2 linked regions of the Homo sapiens genome follow. The protein of the gene in region 1 purifies or fractionates together with the protein of each later gene. This does not show direct contact. Each region holds a gene or a part of one and is shown in the gene's direction. Other genes may lie near its edges.

Evidence for each region.
Region 2: the proteins of SPMAP2 (region 1) and TTL purify together in Homo sapiens (affinity purification with mass spectrometry; one large-scale study listed by BioGRID and IntAct). This does not show direct contact.

Annotation. Positions count from the first base shown.
Region 1 is NC_000019.10:363,336-366,048, reverse strand, and holds part of SPMAP2 (sperm microtubule associated protein 2), read left to right. Parts: intron 1-1,028; coding exon of another isoform or gene 1,029-1,124; intron 1,125-2,713. UniProt on the Homo sapiens protein: May be involved (but not essential) in spermatogenesis.
Region 2 is NC_000002.12:112,495,606-112,499,428, forward strand, and holds part of TTL (tubulin--tyrosine ligase), read left to right. Parts: intron 1-3,823. UniProt on the Homo sapiens protein: Catalyzes the post-translational addition of a tyrosine to the C-terminal end of detyrosinated alpha-tubulin.

The DNA of each region.
Region 1 (2,713 bases):
CTGCCTCGGCTTCCCGAGTAGCTGGGACTACGGGAGCCTGCCATCACTCCTGGCTAATTTTTGTATTTTTAGTAGAGACAGGTTTTCACCATGTTGGCCAGGCTGGTCTTGAACTCCTGACCTCATGATCCGCCCACCTCGGCCTCCCAAAGTGCTGGGATTACAGGCATGACACCGCTCCTGGCCAGGAAGCAGCATTTTTAAAACGTGAAGCAGACCAGCAAATGAAGTGCACTGACCTATGTGGGGTTAGAGCGAGAGTGTGGCTGTTTGTGCTCACACTTGCTGTGTGGGGGTAAGAGTGTGGCTGTATGTGCTCACACTTGCTGTGTGGTGGGGGTAAGAGTGAGTGTGTGGCTGTGTGTGCTCACACTTGCTGTGTGGTGGGGGTAAGAGCGAGTGTGTGGCTGTGTGTGCTCGCACTTGCTATGTGGGGGTAAGAGTGTGGCTGTATGTGCTCACACTTGCTGTGTGGTGGGGGTAAGAGCGAGTGTGTGGCTGTGTGTGTGTGCTCACACTTGCTGTGTGGTGGGGGTAAGAGCGAGTGTGTGGCTGTGCTGTTTCTCTGTGCGTGCTCACGCTTGCTATGTGGGCTCAGTTGCTGCTGCTCGGGAGTGCTGGAAACTCAACAGAGTTTCAAAGCCCAGATGCCTACTAAATTCTCACAGAGGAGTTCAAAGAAGGCTAGGCTCTGGGCACGGTTCTTCCAGCCCCCTTAGGGTCACCAGGGCCCCACTGCTTGGCCCCCTTACCCTGCACAAGGGCATCTGCCGGGCAGAGCTCGCATCCACCCGGAAGGTGCAGAAGAGACAATTAGCATGCAGAGCAGGGGCCAGAGAAGCACTCACACCTGTACCAGTATATGGATGTTTATATTCACGACGTGTGTGTGTGGTGAGCGCGGGTGCGTGCAGGATGGTCTAAGGCAGTGCTGTATCTGCAGTTTCCATTCAGATGGCCTTGCCCAGCCACGTGCCACGTGGGGTTCTGCCTGCCTAGTGGAAGAGACTCCACACTCTTTTCCCCAGGAGCCTCTTCACAGAGCCAGGGCTGGTCTGCCAAGAAGTGGGTAGCCCTTATTCATTTGCGCAGAAGTTCCACGCAAAGAGGGATCTGGAAAGAAGGTGGGAGCTTTCCCAGAAATCAAAGGCCCTGAAGCCTTCAGAGACAAGGTAGAGGACAGCCCCGGCTGCTATGCCAGACTCGGTGGCCACCTTTCTTCCTAGTCTCCAAGCAGTCTGCTGCAGCTCCCTGCTATAAAGGAAGGGGTGGGGGAGAGATGGTGAGAAGGGGGTACCAGGAGGAGGGGGCCACGAGTGCCTGAGGGACAGCCACCAGGGAGCAAGACATGACCCCAGCCAGGGGGAGGAGATGCCTCCTGCCCCGACCCACTTACCACCATGACATGAGCAGGTGGAGAGGGGGGTGAACCAGGGTCACCTGTGTTGGCAGCAGAGTGAGGAGACTTGAGCTCTCTTGGCTGTGGCCCCCTGAGTCCCCCTTTCAGGTACCTGTGGCCATTTTTTTTTTTTTAGAGATGGGGTCTCGCTGTGTTGCTCAGTCTGGCCTCAAAACTCTAGGGCTCAGGTGATCCTCCTGCCTCTGCCTCCAAAAGTGCTGGAATGACAGGCATGTGCCATTGAGCCTGGCTGCCAGTGGCCGTTTAAAATATTTTTTCTTTTTTTTTCTTTCTTTTTTTTTTTTTTTTTTTTGAGACAGAGCTTCGCTCTGTCACCCAGGCTGGAGCGCAGTGGCGCGATCTCAGCTCACTGCAAGCTCCGCCTCCCGGGTTCACGCCGTTCTCCTGCCTCAGCCTCCTGAGTAGCTGGGACTACAGGCAGCCGCCACCACGCCCGGCTAATTTTTTTTTTGTATTTTTAGTAGAGATGGGATTTCACCGTGTGAGCCAGGATGGTCTCGATCTCCTGACCTTGTGATCCGCCCGCCTCGGCCTCCCAGAGTGCTGGGATTACAGGCATGAGCCACCGCGCCCAACCGAAATATTTTTTATTTGTAATTCACCCTGTTTTAAGTGTAGGTTTCGTAGCTCGATGTGGCAGTGCATATGACTGTAGCCCCAGCTACTTGCGAGGCTGAGGTGGGAGGATGGCTGGAACCCAGCAGTTCAAGTCAGGTGGAGGCTGCAGTGAGCTAAAGATCGTGCTCCAGCCTGGGAGACACAGCAAGACCCTGCCTCAAAATAAAATAAAATGGGGCCGGGCACGGTGGCCCACACCTGTAATCCCAGTACTTTGGGAGGCCGAGGCGGGCAGGTTGCCTGAAGTCAGGAGTTCGAGACCAGCCTGGCCAACATGGTGAAACCCTGTCTCTACTAAAAATACAAAAAATTAGTCGGGCGTGGTGGCGGGCGCCTGTAGCCCCAGCTACTCGGGAGGCTGAGGCAGGAGAATCACTTGATCCTGGGGAGCGGAGGTTACAGCGAGTCAAGGTCATGCTACTGCACTCCAGCCTGGGCAACAGAGCAAGACTCTGTCTCAAAATGAAATAAAATAATAAAGTAAAATAAAATGATAAAATGAAATAAAATAAAAAATAGGCCAGGCACAGTGGCTCACGCCTGTAATGCCAGCCCTTTGGGAGGCTGAGGCGGGCGGATCGCCTGAGGTCAGGAGTTCAAGACCAGCCTGGCCAACATGGTGAAACCCCGTCTCTGCTGAAAATAGAAAGATTAGCTGGCTGTGGTGGTGCACGT
Region 2 (3,823 bases), on another chromosome or scaffold:
GGGAAGCCGAGGCGGGCGGATCACAAGGTCAGGAGATTGAGACCATCCTGGCTAACACGGTGAAACCCCGTCTCTACTAAAAATACAAAAAATTAGCTGGGTGTGGTGGCGGGTGCCTGTAGTCCCAGCTACTCGGGAGGCTGAGGCAGGAGAATGGCGTGAACCCGGGAAGTGGAGCTTGCAGTAAGCTGAGATCGCACCTTCAGCCTGGGTGACAGAACAAGACTCCTTCTCAAAAATTAAAAAAAAAACCATTCCATTTTGAACTCACTTCTTGTATTGCCTTGGAAGACATCTAGCCATTGGTACTCATTTCTGTTCCGGGTCGAAGGGACCTCACCTTCTTTTCCACCAGCGATGAGACAGGAAGGCCTCAACTGGTATCCCTGAAAGGGGGAGAGTTGGACTCTTGCCACAAGTCAGGTATCTCACCTACTTCTCTCTCCCCTCTTGTGACCTTTTCTCAACTACTGCCCCCTAGTGTGGTTCCAATGGTAAATGACGGATTTGGAAGAGGAAATAGACATCCCTTCTCCTGTGGGTTTGGGATTGGAGTCAGAATGGCCACTGTGAGGACACCTGGTGATCCCTGGACCCTCACTAAGACAAGACTCAGAGGGACACCAAGCAGCAGGGGGAAGTCAAGAGAGAATAAAATGCTAAAGACTTTTTGCTTTAAGAGTTGAAGAGATATATATTTGATATATATTTATTATGTTTGGAAACCATAAAATGAAACCAATAGGATGAATGAATGGTTTTTATTCTTGTTAAACAAGTATTTATTTGGTACCCACTACATGCTTTGTATAGTTGGCTCAACCTTCAAACTCTACCCATTATGAAGCTACTGTTTACCATGTCCACTGCCTATTTCTAATCTAGCCACCTTCACCTCTCACCTGGAGCGTGGGAACACACTACATCTATAACAGAAAATTATTGTTTAGAAACAACCCCATTATTCCACTATTACAGATAACAGTAGTAAATGTCTTTGCTGTAGATGACCCTTGTTTCTTTTTTAATTTTAATTTTTTATTTTATATATATATGTGTCTGTGTGTGTGTGTGTGTGTGTGTGTGTGTGTGTGTGTGTGTGTATTTTTTTTTTTTTTTTGAGACAAGGTCTCACTTTGTTGCCCAGGCTGGAGTGAGATGGCATGATCTCAGTTCACTACAGCCTCGACTTCCTGGGCTCAAGCGATCCTCCCAACTCAACCTCTTTTTTTTGAGACAGAGTCTCACTCTGTCACCCAGGCTGGAGTGCAGTGGTGCCATCTCAGCTCACTGCAAGCTCCGCCTCCCAGGTTCACGCCATTCTCCTGCCTCAGTATCCCGAGTAGCTGGGACTACAGGTACCAGCCACCACACCCGGCTAATTTTTTGTACTTTTAGTTGAGACAGGGTTTCACCACATTAGCCAGGATGGTCTCGATCTCCTGACCTCGTGATCCGCCCGCCTCAGCCTCCCAAAGTGCTGGGATTACAGGCGTGAGCCACCGTGCCCGGGCCCGCTCCCATCTCAAGCTCTTGAGTAGCTGGGACGACAGCCGTGCACCACCACACCCTGTTAATTTTTTGATTTTTAGTAGAGATGAAGTCTCACTGTGTTACCCAGGCTGTTCTTGAACTCCTGAGCTCAAGTGATCTTCCCACCTCAAGCCTCCCGAAGTGCTGGGATTACAGGCATGAGCCATCACACCCAGCCTTGACTCTTGTTTCTTCTTAAAAATTTCATTAGAGTAAGTTTGAAACATGAGATTACTTGGTCAAATGATATGAAGCCTTTATGGCTCTTGCTCTGTGTTATCCTCTTGCTTTTTCAAAGGGCCGTGAGCTAACAGGGAGCAGTTCATGACGAACTTTTACTAAAAGTATCACCATTTTTGTTTTCTTATTTTGTAGGTATAAAACGATACATAAAATTCAAATTTATTTTATAATTTTTGATACTGTTGTATCAAAAAATCTGAGTCTGATTCCTAAGGGAGATGAAACAGCATGAGTCATGTGTGTAGGGGAAGAGAATAAGGGAGCTTTTCCAGGTTGATTTGCAGTTTCTTGTTCAAGAAGCTCACCAGATGGTCGAACAAGTGACAGGAAGAAGATAGTTGAAAAGGGCGTTAACGTTTGGGAAAGGTGGATCATTGAATTAATGAACTGAATTGAATTCATTTATAAAGAAAGCATGAGATCCAGGTAGAAATCAGCTATAAATCTAAAGCATAGATCAGAAGATTCTAGCAAACTGAAACCACAACGAACTGTCACTACACTTTTATTAAAATGGTTATAATAAGAAGTGGTGACAACTCACTAAAGAGTGAGTTCAGCCATGTTACGGGATATGAGAGCAACACACAAAACTTAATCACATTTTTATGTGCCAACAATGAACATGTGGAAACCAAAGTTAAAAACACAAAACTACTTAGCTGGGCGCAGTGGCTCACACCTGTAATCCCAGCACTTTGAGAATCCAAGGCGGGCGGATCACCTGAGGTCAGGAGTTCGAGACCAGTCTGGCTGACTTGCTGAAACCCTGTCTCTATAAAAATACACAAATTAGCCGGGCTTGGTGGCAGTCACCTGTAATCCCTGTTACTCAAGAGGCTGAGGTGGGAGAATCGCTTGAACCCAGGAGGCAGAGGTTGCAGTGAGCTGAGATCGCACCATTGCACTCCAGCTTGGGCAAGAGAGCAAAAATTCCGTCTAAAAAAAAACCAAAAAACTACAGTACTACTTACAGTCACCCTAGAGAAAATGTGATGCTTGGGTATAAATTTAACAAGACATGTATAGGCTCTGTGTGCTAAAAATAGTAAAATGATTATGAAGGAAGTCAAAGAGGACCTAAAGAAATGGACAGACATACCGTGTTCATGGATTGCAGGACAGTATAGTAAAGATGTCAGTTCACCCTAAACTGGTCTATAGGTTTATGTAGTTCTTATCAAAATGTTAGCAACATTTTTGTATAGACATGGAGCTTCTTTTAAAATTTACATGGAGGGGCCGGGCACGGTGGCTCACACTTGTAATCCCAGCACTTTGGGAGGCCAAGGCGGGTGGATCACCGGAGGTCAGGAGTTCGAGACCAGGCTGGCCAACATGGTGAAACCCTGTTCCTACTAAAAAATACAAAAATTAGCCAGGCATGGTGGCGGGCGCCTGTAATCGCAGGTATTTAGGAGGCTGAGGCAGAAGAATCGCTTGGGCCCAGCCTAGGCGACAAGACCAAGACTCCATCTCAATCAATAAATAAATAATAAAAATTCATATGGAAAGGCACAAGCCCTAGAATAGCTTAAACATCTTGAAAAAGAAGAATATAAGTGAACATGCTACCTGATATTAAGATGTATTTTAGAGCTATAGTACTTAATACACTGTAGTATTCATGAAAAAATAGAAACATAAATCAGTGGGGCCAGGCACGGTGGCTCTCGGCTGAAATCCCAGCAGAGGCCAAGGCGGCTGAATCACCTGAGGTCAGGAGTTCGAGACAAGCCTGGCCAACATGGTGAAACCCCATCTCTACTAAGAATACAAAAAAATTAGCCAGGTGTGGTGGCGCATGCCTGTACTTTCAGCTACTCGGGAGGCTGAGGCATGAGAATTGCTTGAACCAGGGGGCAGAGGTTGCTGTGAGCCGAGATCACACCACTGTGTGACAGAGCAAGACTCTGTCTCAAAAACAGAAGAAACATAAATCAGTGGAAGAGAATAGAGAACTCAGAAATAGACCAAAACATATATGCCCATCTGATATTTGAAAAAGGTGCAAAAGCCATTCAATAGAGGAAGGATAAACTTTTCA